2 linked regions of the Homo sapiens genome follow. The protein of the gene in region 1 interacts with the protein of each later gene in a biochemical or structural test. Each region holds a gene or a part of one and is shown in the gene's direction. Other genes may lie near its edges.

Evidence for each region.
Region 2: the proteins of DNTTIP2 (region 1) and ESR2 form a complex in vitro, tested with the Homo sapiens proteins (one study listed by BioGRID).

What each region holds. Positions count from the first base shown.
Region 1 is NC_000001.11:93,865,717-93,869,439, reverse strand, and holds the end of DNTTIP2 (deoxynucleotidyltransferase terminal-interacting protein 2), read left to right. Parts: 3' UTR 1-3,156; downstream 3,157-3,723. UniProt on the Homo sapiens protein: Regulates the transcriptional activity of DNTT and ESR1. May function as a chromatin remodeling protein. Part of the small subunit (SSU) processome, first precursor of the small eukaryotic ribosomal subunit.
Region 2 is NC_000014.9:64,256,319-64,263,618, reverse strand, and holds part of ESR2 (estrogen receptor beta), read left to right. Parts: intron 1-2,870; coding exon 2,871-3,170; intron 3,171-6,203; exon of another isoform or gene 6,204-6,254; coding exon 6,255-6,393; intron 6,394-7,300.

The sequences.
Region 1 (3,723 bases):
TGTGTGTGTCTGTGTAGGGGACGGGAGATGGTAGAGAGGCAATGCCCTATAGTTAGCTATAAAATTCAGATCCAGAAAGTTGGGATACAAAGATATGAAGAATATGACCTAGAAAGCTTGGGCAGAGGAGCTGTTTTCCTTGCTTGGCAACTGAAACAGGGAGGAATAATTGGTTTTTATCTAGATTTAAGTGTTGTGGTCCAAGTAAAACAGGATTAAACTATAATTTAAGTTGGCCAGGGTTTCTTCGAAGTTAACCCAGCTTACCTCTTCTCCAGTGGTACAGTATGCACCCTGGCTAAGCTGGTTTCTGGCACCCAAGGAGTGTTGGTCATTTCTGTTGATACTTGGTGAGTTGTAGCTTCCTTTATGTTACTATTCACTTTACCTCTATTTTTCCAGCATACTGCTTCCTTGAGATATCAGCAAATATGAAATCTTTTTTTTTTTTAATAATAGTTTTGGGGTACATGTGTAGAACATGCAGGTTACATAGGTATACACGTGCCATGGTGGTTTGCTGCACCCATCAACCTATCTACATTAGGTATTTCTCCTAGTGCTATCCCTCCCCTAGTCCCCCACCCACAACAGGCCCCAGTGTGTGATGTTCCCCTCCCTGTGTCCATGTGTTCTCATTGTTTACCTCCCACTTACGAGTAAGAACATGCAGTGTTTGGTTTTCTGTTCTTGTGTTAGTTTTCTGTTCTTGCTGAGATGATTTCCAGCTTCAGCCATGTCCCTGCAAAGGACATGAACTCATGCTTTTTTATGGCCACATAGTATTCCATGGTGTATATGTGCCACATTTTCTTTATCCAGTCTATCATTCATGGGCATTTGGGTTGGTTCCAAGTCTTTTCTATTGTGAACAGTGCCACAGTAAACATACTTGTGTATGTGTCTTTATAGTAGAATGATTTATAATCCTTTGGGTATATACCCAGTAATGGGATTGCTGGGTCAAATGGTATTTCTGGTCCTAGATCCTTGCGGAATCACCACACTGTCTTCCACAATGGTTGAACTAGTTTACACTCCCACCAACAGTGTAAAAGTGTTCCTAGTTCTCCATATCCTCTCCAGCATCTGTTGTTTCCTGACTTTTTAATGATTGCCATTCTAACTGGCAATGAGATGGTATCTCATTGTGGTTTTGATTTGCATTTCTCTAATGAGCAGTGATAATGAGCGTTTTTTCATGTTTGTTGGCTGCATAAATGTCTTCTTTTGAGAAGTGTCTGTTCATATCCTTCACCCACTTTTTGATGGGGTTTTTTCTTGTAAATTTGTTTAAGTTCTTTGTAGATTCTGGATATTAGCCCTTTGTCAGATGGATAGATTACAGAAATTTTCTCCCATTCTGTAGATTGCCTGTGCACTCTGATAATAGTTTCTTTTGCTGTGCAGAAACTCTTTAGTTTAATTAGATCCCACTTGTCAATTTTGCCTTTTGTTGCCATTGCTTTTGGTGTTTTAGTCATGCAGTCTGCCCATACCTATGTCCAAAATCTCATATTTACTGCTTGGAGTCAAAAGCTAGTAATAGCAGAACTGACAATAACATTCATAGTTGGAGTTAGGGAAGCATCTATGTCTGTTCTCTTTTATTTTAAAAAAAAACTACTTTTGTTTCTGGAATACTATGTTTTGCCTTCTACTGGATAAAATAAGGACCCAGTATGAGAGAATTGTATCCTTTAGTGCTTCTGGCCTTCTACAAATACCTGGATATTTAAATAATGGATGAAGTTATGTTTTGCTTTTTAATAAGCAAGTCTTTTGAGAAACAGGTTTTACTGACTTTGGCCTGTGTCACTAAACTCAGTTCACCTACTGGAACTTTTTTTTTTTTTTTTGAGACGTCTCACTCCATCACCCAGGTTGGAGTGCAGTGGTGCCATCTCAGCTCACTGCAACCTCCGCCTCCCAAGTTCAAGCGATTATCATACCTCAGCCTGCCAAGTAGCTGGGACTACTGGGCATGCCATTATGCCCAGCTAACTTTTGTATTTTTAGTAGAGATGGGGTTTTGCCATCCTTACCTCAAGTGATCCACCCGCCTCGGCCTCCCAAAGTGCTGGGATTACAGGTGTGAGCCACCATGCCCAGCCAACTGGAACTATTTGAAGGCTTTATACCAGAAAAGTATAAAGAATCCAAAGGGCTGCCACAGTCAGGTGTGCTGGTGAAAGAGACCTTCAAGATACCCCTGAGAAGATCTTGAAAGATTTCGAAAAGAATGCTGTATTTATACACCATCTGGCTCCAAGATGCTTTTTTTTTTTTTTTTTTTGAGAGACGGACTCTCGCTCTGTCGCCCAGGCTGGAGTGTAGTGGCATGATCTTGGTTCACTGCAACCTCCGCCTCCCGGGTTCAAGCAATTCTGCCTCAGCCTCCCAAGTACCTGGGATTAACAGGCACCCACCACCACACCCGGCTAATTTTTGTATTTTTAGTAGAGACGGGGTTTCACCATGTTGGCCAGGCTGGTCTTGAACTTCTGACCTCAGGTGATCCACCGGCCTCAGCCTCCCAAAGTGCTGGGATTACAGGCAGGAGCCACCACGTCTGGCCCAAAATGTTCTTAAAACAAAGTAGATGCTGTAAGACTACAGTTGATAAAGTTGGGCTCTGGGCTAGGTTCTTAGCATCCAACACAATCAGTTCTGTGTTCAGTGTTCTGCTGTATGATAAACCAACTGCTCTAGAGAAACACCAATATTCCTCTTCTGAAACCTGGGAAAATGTCTTTTTTGGGTCCCATAACTAGATGTCACAAAAGGAGTGGGGAGTGGGGAGGCTATATAAAAAAGTTCAACAAAACCTTAGTAACTGGTATACATTAATAGGATCCCATTCTTAGAAACAGCAAGTTAAAGAAAATACCATAATGGGAAAAAAAAGTTAACATTTCTGAGAGATGTACCAGGTATTCAGTCTCTCAGGCAGTGACAACTTGTTCAGAATAATTACCTACAATAGATCCCAAACCATTGAAAAATGCCTAATTGTTTACTTAATGGAATTTGTACTTACTATTTAATTAGATGAATATCTTTATTGAAAGTTTTCAGTAAGGGTTGCAACAAAAAGGGCTTTCTAATTAACCAATTCCCCAAGCATCTGTCTAATTAAAATGTAAAGTGCAATTATTCTCATTGTCACATAGTTTTTGAAGTGAAGAAAAATCTTCCAAGAAGTAGGATCAATACCATGACCTATAATTAAATGTCATAAGCGGATCAGTGTTCTATCACTGGAGAAATGAGACATCTCCAATGAACTATGAAATGTAAAATTAGGTAAGTTTGTGCATAGAGGATTTCTAGGAGGACATACAAGACATACCTTCAAATCAAGATGGCCCTGTAGTTCCTCAAGCTCAATTTTATCAATTCCAGTTACCCTCATTTCCAGTTCACTTTAGCGAATCACTATCATGGCCTTAGACTCGTTGTTTGAGAATTCAGTGGTCAAGATTCTTAACTCAGACTACCCCAATTTGTATCTTGTTATCTGTTATCCTGTTAGTCTTCCCTTCAGTTGTCTCCAACTTAGCCTTGGCTGCAATTTGGAATTACCTATGGTGGCTTCAAAATGCTGATGCCTGGGTCTCACCCCCCAAACATTGTGAAATCATGATTTCAAGCCTTTCAGCCACTCATTCTCTGAATCCTCTATCCTCATGAAGATACATTTTTCTCCCTAACCAATCTAGA
Region 2 (7,300 bases), on another chromosome or scaffold:
GGAGTGCATGGCACGGTCTCGGTTCACTGTGCCTCCTGGGTTTGTGCGACTCTCCTGCCTCAGCCTCTTGAGTAGCTGGGACTACAGGAATGCACCACCATGCCTGGGTAATTTTTGTATTTGTAGTAGAGATGGGGTTTTTCCATTTTGGCCAGGCTGGTCTCAAACTCCTGACCTCAGGTGATCCGCCCACCTTGGCCTCCCAAATTGCTGGGATTACAGGCATGAGCCAGCGCACCTGGCCTTTGTTGTTTTGAAGTATATGAGTTTAGAATTATTTATCTTTTTAAAATATTCTAGCGATGAGTCTCCTTATCTATAATAATAATTTTTGCCTTAAAGTTTATTTGTCTGGTATCAATAGAGTAATGTCAATTTATTTGGTTAATTTTGCCTGTTAAATATTTTTCTATCTGTCTACTTTGTTTTTCTATATGTTAGGTATATCTCTTACACCTAATCTATGTCTAGATTTAAAAATATGTATAATTTCAGAGTCACTCTTAAATGGTCAATTTGGTATTTTTTGTTTATTGTGATAACTGATATTTGGGTTCATTTCTATCATCTTATTTTTTGATTTAAAAAATTTTATTATGTATTTTCTACTTCTTCCCTTTTAGGAGTTGATCACATTTTTATGTTTTCTTTTTCTTCTTTTGCTAGTTTAAAAGTCATACATTCTGTTTCAATTCCCTTTTATCTTTTGAGACAGAGTCTCGCTGTGTCACCCAGGCTGGAGTGCAGTGGTGTGATCTTGGCTCACTGCAGCCTCTGCCTCCCAGGTTCAAGTGATTCTCCTGCCTCACCTTCCTAAACAGCTAGGATTACAGGCATTTGCCACCATGCCCAGCTAATTTTTGTATTATTAGTAGAGATGGGGTTTCACCATGCTGCCCAGGTTGGTCTTGAACTCCTGGCCTCAAGTGATCCGTCCCCTCCCGCCCCACCCGCCGAAACCACCTTTGGCCTCCTAAAGTTCTGGGATTACAAGTGTGAGCCACCATGTTTGGCCATGTTTCAATTCCTTTAATGACGTTTATGTTTTGTAACGTGTTCTTGATTAATTTGAGAATTTAAGCTTCTATCTTCCCAAAAAAGAATCTTAGAAATTCTAACCAAAATCATTCCTCTCTGATTTTGCATGTTATTGTTTGTTATTTTGGTTCCACCTTGTTTCTATATCACTAAAACTTAATTCTTGGGCCGGATGTGGTGGCTTATGCCTGTAATCCCAGCACTTTCAGAGGCCAAGGCAGGAGGATCACTTGAGCCCAGGAATTCGAGACCAGCCTGGGCAACATGGTGAGACCCTGTCTTTACAAAAAATACAAAAATTAGTCAGATGTGGTGGTGCACACTTGTAGTCCCAGCTATCCAGGAGGCTGAGGTGGGAGGATCTCTTGAGCCTGGGAGGTTGAGGCTGCAGTGAGCTGTGATCATGACTGTACCACCATACTTCAGCCTGGGTGACAGAGACCTTGTCTCTTAAAAAAAAAAAAAAAAAAGTAAATCCAAAGAACAAGCATATAAATCAACTTTGCTAGTAATTAAAACATACAAAGTAAAGCGAGATGGTTTAGTTAGATTAGCAAACATTAAAAATGATTTTTAATGCCCAATGGGTTCTGAGAAAACAGTCAAACTATTGAGGACTGGGTAACATAGTAAGACCCTAGTTCTACAAAAAAATTTAAAAGTTAGCTGGGCATGGTGGCATATTCCTGTAGTCCCAGCTACTCAGGAGGCTGAGGCAGGAGGATTGCTTGAGTCCAGGAGATGAAGGCTGCAGTGAGCTATGATTGCATCATTACACTCCAGCTTGGGCAACAGAGCAGGACTCTGTCTCAAAAATACAATTAAAATAGTGTAGATACTACAATCTAATTTTGTGTATAAAGGCTGGGTGCAGTGGCTCACGCCTGTAATCCCAGCACTTTGGGAGGCCAAGATGGGCAGATCACTTGAGAATCAGGAATTTGAGAGCAGCCTGGCCAACATGGTGAAATCACATCTCTACTAAAAATATAAAAATTAGCCAGGCATGGTGGCGGGCTCCTGTAATCCCAGCTACTTGGGAGGCTAAGGCAGGAGAATCGCTTGAACCCGGGAGGCTGAAGTTGCAGTGAGCCAAGAATGTGCCACTGAACTGCAGCCTGGGTGACAGAGTGAGACTCCGTCTCAAAAATAAATAAATAATTTTGTGTATAAAACGTGGAAAAATATGGTGGCAGGCACCCATAGTCCTAGCTACTCGGGAGGCTGAGGCAGGAGAATGGCGTGAACCCGGTAGGCGGAGCTTGCAGTGAGCCGAGATCACACCACTGCACTCCAGTCTAGGCCACAGAGCAAGGCTCCGTCTCAAAAAAAAAAAAAAAAGAAAAAAGAAAAATAAAAGCATTAAAAAGACTGAAAGAGTTTATGCCAAAATTTATTCTCTTCTATATTTTTCAGATTTTTTCACTTAATTTGTTATTTGAAATATACTTGTTTTGTGTAAGTATAAGGAAATATATACATATGCACACATGCATATAAACATTTTAAGAATGTGTTATAATAAAAGTATATTATTTGATACCTTTGGAAATATCCCCATTTTTCTACCTGAAGAAAATTCCTAATTTCATGGTTTGGAAACAGGTTTATGAGCACTCTTTATAGAGAAACGGTGTTAGTATCTATAGATGACCTGGAAATGGAGACCTAAAAAGTTTCTGAAAAGTTATGTCGTTGGTTTTGCTAGTACGGTCACGACCATAGTAATCTTTGGTACGTGCCCCACAGGCTCCAGAAAATAAAAGTCAAGCTGCTTTTGCTTGACTGCGGTTTTACCCTGGCAATTCGAATGACTCTGCTTTCCTCTTCAGGCTCCCGGAGAGAGAGATGTGGGTACCGCCTTGTGCGGAGACAGAGAAGTGCCGACGAGCAGCTGCACTGTGCCGGCAAGGCCAAGAGAAGTGGCGGCCACGCGCCCCGAGTGCGGGAGCTGCTGCTGGACGCCCTGAGCCCCGAGCAGCTAGTGCTCACCCTCCTGGAGGCTGAGCCGCCCCATGTGCTGATCAGCCGCCCCAGTGCGCCCTTCACCGAGGCCTCCATGATGATGTCCCTGACCAAGTTGGCCGACAAGGAGTTGGTACACATGATCAGCTGGGCCAAGAAGATTCCCGGTAGGGCTTTCTGGCTATCAGTTTTCCATGTACTTGTAGAAAGGCCGGCCGCTAATATTTAAGGGGCAAGAGTACAAAGTAGAGGTCCATGAGCTGTGCCTAGATATTTAACAGGTCCTCAGCTGGATTTGTAACTTTTAAGTGCAATATGTTCCTTCCTTCTGTCTTGGCATACCTACCTTCAACAAGGCCGTGTTCTGATTTAGAATTCTGAGACTCTTCTGAGTTCTGTACCCAACATGGTAGTGCAGAAAGAGTTGTGCGTGGCCCAGCCATTTCTATTCTTGACTGCCTTCTTTTCCCATGGCTAGATGCATCCCATACCACCTTGCACAAACCCTATCCTGTGTGTCCACATCTGCTACAGACACTCACCTGTTGGCCACCTCTCATGCCTAGAGGTGGTCTGGGAGGATGGACCCAGGGAACCTACCTAGGCTCTGGAATTGGGCTTGGGGTCATTTGGGCAAGAATCCTAGAGTCCTGGAACCTGGAACGTGGTTAAAATGATAGACTCCACATTGACCCATTTCTTGGCTGTGGATTCCTCACCTTGAAAGGAGGGGTGGGGTAGAGTACAGTATGACTAGTTTGAAAGTGAAAGGTTTGTCAGATGCTAAATAGAATTTTGTAAATTATTGTTCCAGTAGAGAATCAATATTATGTACATAAATGAATATGTATGGACAAACAGAGTAAATCAGTGGTTGAAGTTACACGAATCATCAATGGGCCCATAAACCTGGAATGCCATCAAGTTAAAAATGAGCTTAGTTACTCATGAGTTGTCACTTGGAACCTGCGTTTTCCATCCTCCAAAGTGATCACTTCTCTCAAGCCCATTTGTAATATATATCTGAAGTGCTGTATGATGCTAAAATTACCAGCTAATTATCATTTGACTTGGTGTTTCTGTGGAGGAGTGAATCTAGGATTCTAACCTAGAGTGGCAACACCCCACGATCCCCCTGTGACAGCTTCTCCATGCTGTTCTTTACAGTCCTTGAAGAAATGAAGTCTCTTATAAGTTCTGAGCCACTGGGGGCATTCCCATGGCCTGGAGGGCAGCGACTGCACTGGGCAAGCTGTAAAGATGAGGAGGGGTGAGAAGCTGGGGGAAGAGAAGTTTTGGGTAAAGAGCCTGGGGAACTGAGGCCTATGGTGACAGTATCATTTGGGGACTTTTGTTGGCCTGGGCCCATTTCTTCTGAGCTTCCTGAGGATTTTTGGTTTCTAGTTGTATTTTGTTTTGTCTAGCATCTTCACCTTTGCCAGAATTATTTTATTTTCTCTGCTTTTTCCCAGGGGAGGCAATACTGATGCACTTTCCTCTAGTTTTTGCTTTAAATGTATTCCAAACACGATTTTGCAGGACCACACATGGAGAGCAGTGGTGAAATTAATTATTGCTGAAAGCTGTGCACCTTCTTTGTGCCATAAGAAATCTGAACTCTTAAACTGCATTATTCCTTATTCAAGCCTGGTGTTTTGAAAAGTTTTCAGGAAACGTAGACATAATCTGAAGGCGTGATTTTTTTTCTCCTCTCTTAGCTGGCATAGTCATTGTCCAAACCAAAAAATATATATTAAAATATCATCTAGCCTTGATCTTGTTGAATATCTACAAGATTAAGAACCGTGATCTCTCTTGGGTAGGCTTATTGTCAATCACTATGGGTGAGACTGGGAAGGTATATACACATTAGGAACCTAAACTGAGCAAAGCATGTGGATTTAGAAAGTATTTATCCATCTTTACATTCATAACACCATTACATTCTCCTTGAGGCAGATTTGCGTTATAATTGTTCAAAGACTTGAACCATGTGTGTTCTCTCTGCTGTAGTTTCCTCATCTGTAAAACAAGAATGATAAGAGATCCTGCCTATAAGACATTCTCAGAGATAGGCATTGTTACCCCCATTTTCCTATAAGAAAAACAAAGACTTAATGGGAGATTAAGTGAACAGCTAGAAAGAGGCTGAGCTGGGGTTCGAACCAGAGTCCATTTCACTCCAAGGCGGTGTCTTTTGTTATCATATTTATATTACATGGCCCTCTCTTTTTATCATGGCTTGTGAAGGAAGCCCCGGTGTTCTCTGCTTTGCTTTTGAAGTGCTTCCCTCCCCAGAGATTACCTGTTTGCAAACAGTACTGTGACCAACATGGGTTATTAGGTTGTCAGGACCTGCTTCGTTATTATATTTGCTCTTTATTTATTTATTTATTTATTTATTTTTGAGACAGGGTCTCGCTCTGTTGCCCAGGCTGGAGTGCAGTGGCGTGATCTCAGCTCACTACAGCCTCGACCTCCTGGGCTCAGGCGATCATCCCACTTCAGCCTCCAGAGTATCTGGGACTACAGGCACCTGCCACCATGACCAGATAATTTTCTGTAGAGATGGGGTTTCTCCATGTTGGCCAGGCTGGTCTCAAACTCCTGGGTGCAGGCAATCCACCCACCTTGACCTCCCAAAGTGCTGGGATTACAGGTGTGCTTGGCTATATTTGCTGTTTAGGATAGAATCACCCAGAAACAGTGCTTCTACCCAGAAGAAGGATCTTAACACTGGATAGGAAATTTTAATCAATCAGAGAAATCCTTGCAGTTGAGGCCTTGGTTTTCTGTGAGGGCTGGCACTGCTCTCTGCAAGCCTCCAACCCCAACCTCCACCTACCCCATCCCCCACCTACCCCATCCCCCACCCCTTCTGATCCCAGTCAAGGATTGGGTCAGACAGGCAGGTCTTCTGACTGGCAGCCAAGCATCAACATTCTCAGTAGTGCAGAGGAATTATCAGGACACAGCTAACAAAGATCAGTTCTGAGCCGAGGTCGTAGTGCTTGACAAACTCTAAATGAAGTATATTTGTCTCTAGAAGGGGTCCAAGACTGGAAACTAAGTTGCGCAGCTTAACTTCAAAGTTTTCTTCCTTTAATGAGCAGTTAATCACATCTATAAAATATCAACTCCCTAATGGTTTGTGTTTTCTTAGTGTTTTAACACTTGCCATTCTGTCTCTACACACACAGGGAGCTGAGGAGGAGGGGTGGGGGTGTCTCACCGCCTCTTGCTTTCCCCAGGCTTTGTGGAGCTCAGCCTGTTCGACCAAGTGCGGCTCTTGGAGAGCTGTTGGATGGAGGTGTTAATGATGGGGCTGATGTGGCGCTCAATTGACCACCCCGGCAAGCTCATCTTTGCTCCAGATCTTGTTCTGGACAGGTGAGAAAAAATACATTGTGTTTCTTCTCTGACTTGTTTGAGTAAGGTGCTTAGTGAGTGGGAACAAAGTCCTGGGTGCTGCAATTAAAATCTCACACTTGCAGGGCAGAGGATGATAGCATCATCAGCTCCTTCACTGGGTCAAGAACCAGAGAAGGAGAGAGTTGGGTCCAAGGATTCAGGGTCCTGTGACTCATTTTTAATCTGTGGTGCAGCAGCATTTACAGGCCAGCGCTTTAATAGGGGACTGTATCCCGTAGGTATGTGGCCACTATGTGTATAAGTCGACACAGATTTTTCTCCATTAAAAATTCCATTTTCAGGTTATAATCTTAAGTTGTCCTGCTGTTTTTTGTACCTATAGTGACCAATTATATCTGGAGCTTTCTGGACAGGTGATAAAATTCTTAGAAATGTGCCAAGTTTATTTTCACATGCTTTAACTCACTCTTTTGTTTTTTTTTGTTTTGTTTTGTTTTGTTTTTTGTTTTTTTTCTGAGATGGAGTCTCTCTCTGTTGCTCAGGCTGGAGTGCAGAGGTGCAATCTTGGCTCACTGCAACCTCCGCCTACCGGATTCAAGTGATCCTGCTGCCTCAGCCTCTCAAGTAGTTGGGATCACAGGTGTCCACCACCATGCCAGGCTAATTTTTCTATTTTTAGTAGAGAAGTGGTTTCACCATGTTGGCCAGGCTGGTCTTGAACTCCTGACCTCAGGCGATCTGCCCACCTCAGCTTCCCAAAGCGCTGGGATTACAGGCGTGAGCCACCATGCCCGATCTGCTTTAACACATTCTAATGCATGTACTATATAGCATTTTTGGCAATAGCGGTGGAAGGAAGGGTTACTAAAACTATATGAAACTTAACAGAAAATGGGACATGATGCTGTATCTTGGTTGTGTTTGA